2 separate regions of the Homo sapiens genome follow, and region 1 is linked to region 2. The links come from fine-mapping of genetic effects on gene expression. A gene starts in region 2. The other region holds a variant in brackets. All regions are shown on one strand. Distances are between the middles of the regions.

Region 1 (4,495 bases), 580 kb after region 2:
CAAAAAAAGACGCTCTGTTTTCCATTTTGCACAAAAATGTATTTCTGTGACTTCCCAAAGTACAGACATTTCCCCAGGCCCCAGGGGGTAAAGCAATGAGGTGTGAAGTCTGCCAGGGTCTGGCCGGGGCCGCTGAGCGTGGGAAGGAAGGGAGCGCCGCATGCAGCCCATCTGCCAAGCTGGGGGAACACAGGGCTGCGCCCACTTCCCAGGGCCGGGAGGGAGAGGCTCCAGGAGAAAAAGGCCAGGTGTCTCTCCCAAAGCTGCTCACCCCTGCCGTCCTGCCTGGAGGCAGAAATGCTAGGAACACCTGAAAACAGGCCCGCGGGAGGAAAAGGGAAGAAAAAGCCATCACCCAAAGGCTGCCTCCAGGGTTAGCGCTGCTCCCCAGGCCCCTGCGCTCCACAAGTGTCCGATGAGAAGCAATGCAGTGTCCATCGATGGAGGAGCAAGAGAGCCGGCGCCTCTCAGGCTTCCAAGGTAAAGCCTAGGGCAGGGCGGGACCGCCAGGGAGGCCCAAGCGGCCACTGCAGGGCAGTCCGAGTGCTGGTCTGGAGGCGGCTGTGTGGCCGTTGTGGGTCAAAGGCTGTCATGGGACCTCTGCCTCTGAGAGGCGTGGGGTCCTCTGGGCAGCGGGGCAGGCTGGGAGGAGGAGGCAGGCTCAGTTCTGCTGGTGGGAGCGCCTGGGCAGTTGAGGGCTATGGAGCGAGGAAGCAAGCCCCTGGCCCCAGAAGATGCTAGCTTCCAGGGCTGAGGGCAGGTTCTGGATGTGTTTGGCAGAAGGGGCAGTGGAATCTGCCCCTGAGTTCTGACCATCCCTGGGCTGGGGCTTTCCACAGCCTGGGACCTGGTGGGAGACTAGGAGGCAGCCTCCATAGCAGCGTGGCCTCAGGCAGGCCTGGCTGGACAGCAGCAGGGCCACTGGGTGCCCTGCTCCTAGAGGGTCTTCAGGGGCAGGGCTGCCTGGACCTCAGCCTAGGAATGGCTCACTTTCCTGCCCCAGATGGCCCACAGCCGGGAGCACCAAGGCTTTTGGGAGACCCAGTGGGGTAAGTTCTAATCCCCAAACCCCATCAGCTGTGCCCGGGAGCCGAGATGGCGTTCTCAGGCAGGGGCAGTGGGTCAGGATGCTCGATACGCTGTCCAAGGCCTGCTCCTCTCATGAAAGGAAGCCAGGCCGGGATCTGAGTTTCCTGGACAAGGACTGGACACTCACAGCGTTATAGGCATTTAGTCTGGTTGGGGTAGGAGTGTGTGTGTCAGCGATGAAGGCTGAGTGGGTTTGAGAATGGCCAAGGAAGCTGCAAGGACTCAGGAGTGTTGCTTTTGTTTTTGCACAGAAATCATACACACAAAACTTCACACTTCCTAACCAAAAAAAAAATATATATATATAATATATATATATCTCACTAACATTAAGGAAAAGCGTCGGTTGTGCAAAAGTCCCCCATGTCTCTTCACTCCGTGGGAGGCTCCCTCGGAAGGGGCCCGCCCGCTGGGCTGCTTGAGCATGCTTCCTCCCCGCCTGTGGTCCAGAGCGGTGGCGGCCATGGGGACGGAGGCCTCTATCTAGACGTGTCCATGTTCTCCTCTTTAAAGTTACTGCAGTGCTCAATCACCTTGCTGGAGACAATGGGGGAGACAGGATTGGAGGGTGGGCTTGGGTGGGGGTGAGCCCAGCCCCTCCGAGATCATTAGGCAGCTGGGTAAACACGTGTTCATAGTGATGGTGATGCTGACCGAATGATGTGGACAGAGGGGCTGGCAGAGTGGCTGGCATGTGCAGGGGACTCAGGGAATGGCACCTGTGGCCGTGAATGCCATCACCAGCCATCCTCCGCTTCCTTCCTTTCCATGCCCCTCTTCTCCCACCCCCAGTCCCAGGGCATCTGTGGATAGGGGGTCCCCAAATCAGCTCAGGCCCGACCTCCAAAACCCTTTGGAAGTTTCTTTAGCGACCTCTTCTTCATTTTCCCTGCACACTAGACCCTTCTCTTTCCAGAAGTCCACCAGTGGTCCCCAAACTGACTGCACATCAGATTCCCCTAGAGGCCCGGATCCAGTGGCAGGTCCAGGGTCGGGCAGGGGCAGCTGTGCTCGCACAAGGGCCCCCACTACCCTGTGGCAGCCAGGGCTCAGCACTCCAGCTCAGATTTCGAGTCTCGCCCGCCCCAGCCTGACCCCTGCCACCCATCACTGTTGGTTGTCACCTTGGACCCCGGACAGCTTGCCCATTCAACACCAAGCCTGTGGTTTGGGGGCTTCACTGCAGCCTCTGTGTGTTAAAGGGATGCCCCAATACCTTTTAGGAAACAAATACCCAGAGTGGGAGAGAGGTCAGTGGACAGGCCGAGGGCCTTCTCCTAAGCATTGTCCAGGGTCATTTACTCCTTGCTGTCAGACAGGCCAGTGCCTCAGATTCCCATCACAGGCCTTGGAGAAATGTTCAAAGTGACTGTGGTAGGTAACTGGTCAGTCTTACCCAGTGCTTCTCAAATTTCCCGGGAATCCTTGTTAACCATGAAAATTCCAGGGCCACCTCCCACCTCCCGGATGTACTGGAAAAGAAAACCTAGGGGTGGGCCCCGTCCATTTATTTTTAAATTTTATTTTTTTGAGACAGAGTCTCGCTCTGTTGACCAGGCTGGAGTGCAGTGGCACCATCTCGGCTCACTGCAACCTCTGCCTCCTGGATTCAAGTGATTCTCCTGCCTCAGCCTCCCAAGTGGCTGGGATTACAGGCACGTACCACCAC[G/A]CCGAGCTAATTTTTGTATTTTTAGTAGAGACGGGGTTTTACCATGTTAGCCAGGTCTCGAACTCCTGACCTCAAGTGATGCACCCACCTCAGCCTCCCAAAGTGCTAGGATTACAGGTGTGAGCCACTTCGCCTGGCCAGTAGCGCCTTTGGCCAGATATAATAGCAGAACCAGCTGACACTTCCCTCCCCTGGCCCAGGAAGTGGCTGGCTGAGGAGCCTCTGAGTTTCAGGCCCCTCCTCCATGTGAACTTTTGCTCTATACAGAGCCATGAAAAAGTGTGCTCGGGTCAGCTTGACTGTTCTCCCTTCTAGAATGAATCCTGGAGAAAACAAGGTCGTTCGACGATTTCGACACGTCGCATCCCTGAGAGTCTCTCGTGTCCTGATCAACTCGAGAACTGGAGGCGGTGACATTTTAGATGCTGCAGTGAAAGCCACAGAGCCACGGAAGGCCGAGACTCCACCATGTTTGTGATCTTCACATTCAGCAAACTCACTCGCACTCTGCCTCATCTTATCTCTAGAATGTATTTTACCACACTGTGTCCCTTCTTTAGTGGGAATGTCTTTGGCCAAAAATAATGAATAGTTCTGACCTGACTTGCTAATACCCAGTGATAAAAGGATGGAATTTGTTGGGAATAAAAGAAAACTAAGCTTACAAACGAGGGCCCTGATGCTCCGTTCCGAGCTTGGTCATCTAATTTCCAGCCACAATGTGGTCGAGATGACATTTGGAGAGGCCCCAGGTGGACATCAATACACTGTCAACCTCCATACTCAACTCTAAGCTGTCCCTGGGAATTTCAGCCATTCCTAACCTCCAGAGGGCGCCCGCTATGCCCTTACTCCCCTAAACCAAGGTTCCAGGCAGAAACACACTGCTGGTCTCTTACCGGGCCATTTCCTTGGTCTCCTGCCGTGCGGTCGCCATCTTAATTATGTCCCTCAGAAGGGGCATCCCCCCTTCTTTGATCAGCAGAGGGCAGTACTTGTCCGCTGTGGGATAGGAGCAGACAGCAGAGGATCAGGATGGGTCTTCTTATCAGCCCGAGGCCCAGAAACCCACCCTGTCTGTGAGGACTATCCTGGTGTCGGGGGTGTGAAGGCACAGCCCTTGGTGGGGGCAGTGCTAGAAATGGGGGCAAGACGTGGGCCCAGCCCCATGGGTGGGAGTTCTGCGTCCATGTAGGGGAGGCAAGAGGTGACTCCTTGGTTTGAAGTTGCTGCATTTATTTCCAGAGCTCATTCTTTTTTTTAAAAAAAAATTATATATATATATATATAAAATATATAATCTTAAAATATATATATATATGGCCGGGCACGGTGGCTCACGCCTGTAATCCCAGCACTTTGGGAGGCCGAGACGGGCGGATCACGAGGTCAGGAGATCGAGACCATCCTGGCTAACACGGTGAAACCCCGTCTCTACTAAAAATACAAAAATTAGCCAGGCATGGTGGCGGGCGCCTGTAGTCCCAGCTACACGGGAGGCTGAGGCAGGAGAATGGCGTGAACCCGGGAGGCGGAGCTTGCAGTGAGTCGAGATCGCGCCACTGCACTCCAGCCTGGGCGACAGAGCAAAACTCCGTCTCAAAAAAAAAAAAAAAAAATATATATATATATATATAAAATCTTAAAAAAAATATATATATATATATAATAGATATAATTTTTTTTTTGAGACAGAGTCTCACTCTGTCACCCAGGCTGGAGTGCAGTGGCACGATC
Region 2 (4,000 bases):
ATGGGGTTTCACCGTGTTGGCCAGACTGGTCTCGAACTCCTGACCTCGTGATCCACCCGCCTCAGCCTCCCAAATGCTGGGATTACAGATGTGAGCCACCGCACCCGGCCTGGCAGAGGATACTTTTTAAGGTCAAAGACAGTAGCAGAGGTGGAGTTCCTGGGAACAGGGTCATGAGGGGAAGAGGGGGTTCGGAGGGAGCGAGTAGCCACTGGCTACCTCTAGAAAGGGAAGGCTTTGGTGCAACATCGTTCCCCTGCAGTTTTACTCATCTTTGCTTCCTGCCCTTTCATCATCCAATCGGGCAGGCAGGACAGGGCCTGAGGGGGCAGGGATCCAGTGGGTGCCTCTCTAGACTAACCCCAGCTCAGGACTCCCAGAGCCCCTTCCCTGAGGCCCTGCTGCCCCCAAGCCCAGATTGGGGATCCCAAGCAGCACGTAGGCAGAGCCAGTGAGGTCCCCGTTAGTCCCATTGAAAGCTCTAAAACCAGCGAACCCTCAGTCCAGCCTCAGGTCAGGCATCCAGGACGGCCTCAGCCCTCATGGGTGAGCCATCTCTGCGGACACTGCACAGGGCCTACGATCCATCGCTGCCTCCCGAGGATGCCAGCCAGGCCCCCGTTGAGATAACTGCTTCCCTGCTGGACAAGGCTGGGACCAGCCATCTCGGTGACAGTTCCAGAACCCCTGGCCTGGGCTGCTGGGTTCAATGGAAAAAGGCTGTGACTAGAGTCAGGGGGATGGTCTCAGTGACCTCAAGGATAAGGCCAGATCCTTGCACTGTCAGTGACCCAAAGCAACAGGTGTCCAGAGCAGCAGTGTGGCGCCTTCACGCCCCCACACATCAGCCCAACTCACCCAGGACAGGGACTGTAGCCTCAGCACTCAACCCATGTGCCCTGTGTGGGGTCTCTTCCCACTGCACTCACAGGAGAGGAAGGGTCCCTCAGGGGTCCACTGGGGTCCCCTCCTGCAAATGGGGCAAGGAGAGGGGCAAGGGGCTGTCTCAAGGCCCCTGGAGCACATGCAGGTCCTGGACTGGGGCTCCTGGGAGGGCCATGATTCTGGGCTCCATGAGTTCAGAGCAGACGCCTTGTTTTTCCTTGTCCACTGTCAGCCACCCCACCCTTCCCTGACCCTTAAAAGAACCAGGAAACAGCACATGATCTGTTGGAAGGAGGCATTCATTCTTTCCTTTCTGTGGGTGTGGGGAGGGGACCACAGGGCACATACCCCACCCTGGGATCCAGCTGAGCAGGGGGGTCAGAGATGACAGCTCTTCCGGCTCACAGGCCACCGGCCCACATACAGGGCAATCAGAAGAAAGAAACAGCACAAGGAAGGCACAGAGGGAGTCGTTGTCCCTGCCAGAGGTGCAGCACTCCGGGAATGTCCCTCACTCTCCCCGTCCCTCTGTCTTGCCCAATCCTGACCAGGTGCAGAAATCTTGCCAAGTGTTTCCGCAGGAGTTGCTGGCAATTGCCTCACATTCCTGGCCTTGGCAAAGAATGAATCAACCCACCCTAGATCCCATAAATAGGGCCACCCAGGTGAGCCTCTCACTCGCCACCTCCTCTTCCACCCCTGCCAGGCCCAGCAGCCACCACAGCGCCTGCTTCCTCGGCCCTGAAATCATGCCCCTAGGTCTCCTGTGGCTGGGCCTAGCCCTGTTGGGGGCTCTGCATGCCCAGGCCCAGGACTCCACCTCAGACCTGATCCCAGCCCCACCTCTGAGCAAGGTCCCTCTGCAGCAGAACTTCCAGGACAACCAAGTAAGGGGCCAAGAGGGGCACCTGCAGGCAGGGCCTGGGGAAGAGTGGGAGCAGAGGGGAGGAGAGGTGAAGAGACTCAGGAAGAGCGTTGGGCAGGACTCTAGGAGTCCAGGGTCCAGGTTTCAGCTCACTCTGTGCCACCAGGGTCCCCTGGTGGAAACCATGCCCCTTCCCCCCATCCCCACCCCCTCTCAGCCTGAACAGACTCCCCCAGGTCCACATCCCCTCTCCCATAACCCCCATTGTCCAAAGAAGGTGGGAGCACTTTTAGTCCCCCTGCACAGATGAGGAAACTGAGGCTCAGGAAGGCCCACCAGCCACATGCCTCCTCCAGTGAGGAGGTCACCCTCCTCCCTGCCAGACTCAGAACCGCCTCTTCCCCCAGGACTCCCTTCTGGACTGATGGCCTCCTGCTCCTGCCCCTTCACCAGTGCAGGCCCAGCCTGGGCCCTGCTGCCCAGCTAGAGGGGCTCATGGTTCCAAGCTGGGCGGCCCAGAGGTGCCACAGGGACAGAGCTGGAGGGGTGGCTCCTAGGGCCATTCCTGGGTTGTGCCTCTTATCAGTCCCTTGCAGTTCCAGGGGAAGTGGTATGTGGTAGGCCTGGCAGGGAATGCAATTCTCAGAGAAGACAAAGACCCGCAAAAGATGTATGCCACCATCTATGAGCTGAAAGAAGACAAGAGCTACAATGTCACCTCCGTCCTGTTTAGGTGAGGGCCGACATCTCCTGGGGGTGTGAGAGTCAGACTGACGTCACAGGCAAGGGATGGCCAAAGCTGAGGGATCCTGTCGTTCACCTCGCTGTTCTGCCCGGAATTCATCTGTGTTCATCCTTCCTCTGTTCCTTAGAGCAACGTTTATAGCACATTTCCATGCAGACACACAGACAGTGGTGGGGATGGACATGCACAGTCGTTAGAAAACAAGACGGAGAGAGGAGGGGTGCCTGGGAGCGGGAGGAGGGGACACTGGATCCAGCCTGGAACCCCACCCAGTGCCTTCATGGAAGGCTTCCAGGGAGGTGGCCTTAAAAGAGCCAACCTGCTTCAAAAGGAAATGTGGGGTGTTCCCGGCAGGGGCTGGAGTCAGAGAGAGCCCCCCCTTCAGGAAGGAGCAAGCCATCGCAGGGTCACCCTGAGCAGAGCTGCTGAGCAGCCTGGAGGGGCAGGTGGCCACGCTAGCACCTAGCACGGTCCTCAGGCCCCGCCCCAGCGGATCTGCTGCGGAGTGGCTTAGAGCAGGGCTCTTGGGCCGCAGGGTGGGGAGACTTGGTGGGGTGCAGCCTAGGGGGTCGGGAGACCAGCGAAAGTGAAGCGGGGCCGTCACAGGTGTGAGAGAACAGGCGCAGGGTGAAGAGGCAGGGAGCCAGGGATCAGCCGCCCCCAGTGGGTTTCTGACTCTGGCAGCTGAGTGGATTGGGATTGGGGCATTTGTGGAGCAAGGAGCAGAATACAGACAGGTTGGGGAGCTCAGCCCTGGGGTGCCAGGGGATGGGAAGTGGGAGGACTCAAGGATGGGGTCAGGTTTGACCCGAGAGCTAGGGGAACGGCTGGCATGGAGCAGACTGGAAGTACCGAGGTGGATCCCCGGGAGAGGGTATAGGAAGGGAAGCAGCAAGCTGAGTGCAGGGGAGAAATGCAGGGTTTCTGTGTGTTGGGTGGCGGGGGGGGTGAAAGCCACCCAGGGAGGCAGCCAAAGGAAAGAAGGACATCGGGTGCTGGAGGGTCTGAGTGGGGTCCAGGGGCCCCAGGCAGGCCAGGAGGGACAGCCTGGTGTCAGCTCAGGGAGAAGGCCCAGGCCCATCTCGGCTGGGTGGGGTAGGGCCCCTCCAGGTAGTGGGGGATGAGCTGTCACGGGTTGGGCCGGACTGAGAGCAACAGAACCCTGCTGCTGCCCTGGCCCCACCTTGTCCAGCACAGGAGGCCCAAGCCTGGGTTGTCTCCCCTCTCACCCACCCATCTCTCCCTCCCAAGGAAAAAGAAGTGTGACTACTGGATCAGGACTTTTGTTCCAGGTTGCCAGCCCGGCGAGTTCACGCTGGGCAACATTAAGAGTGAGTCTTGAGTGAGGTGGGGCACTGAGTTGGGGCTCCGGGGAGCTGGGTAGGGGCACAGACCTTCCTGCCCCTCCACACAGATGTGTTGTATGGGGAGAAGCCCACGTTGATGGGCTGGGGAGGGAGGGGACAGCTCCCTCCTCCCATCCAGGGCAGGGCTGACCCCTCACC

What was found. PIP is the estimated chance that this variant, and not a neighbour inherited with it, causes the effect.
Region 1: its variant is the best candidate, but not a certain one, in a credible set for the expression of LCN2 in whole blood (INTERVAL, PIP 0.68).

Annotation. Positions count from the first base shown.
Region 1 is chr9:128,729,769-128,734,263 of GRCh38, forward strand. It overlaps ZER1 (zyg-11 related cell cycle regulator), which reads right to left. Exons shown (of 16, transcript NM_006336.4): 15 at 3,658-3,760; 16 at 18-1,626. The coding sequence ends at 1,569. It overlaps ZDHHC12-DT (ZDHHC12 divergent transcript), which reads left to right. Exons shown (of 2, transcript NR_046240.1): 2 at 3,074-3,475. Among named protein-coding and RNA genes, the nearest start is that of ZDHHC12-DT, 7.6 kb to the left of the region's middle. RefSeq lists enhancers at 1-631, 2,425-2,925, 2,926-3,426. The variant G/A (reference allele first, on the strand shown) is at 2,759.
Region 2 is chr9:128,147,892-128,151,891 of GRCh38, forward strand. LCN2 (lipocalin 2) reads left to right here and starts at 1,562. Exons shown (of 7, transcript NM_005564.5): 1 at 1,562-1,772; 2 at 2,347-2,483; 3 at 3,747-3,826. The coding sequence starts at 1,635. RefSeq lists a silencer at 2,912-2,961.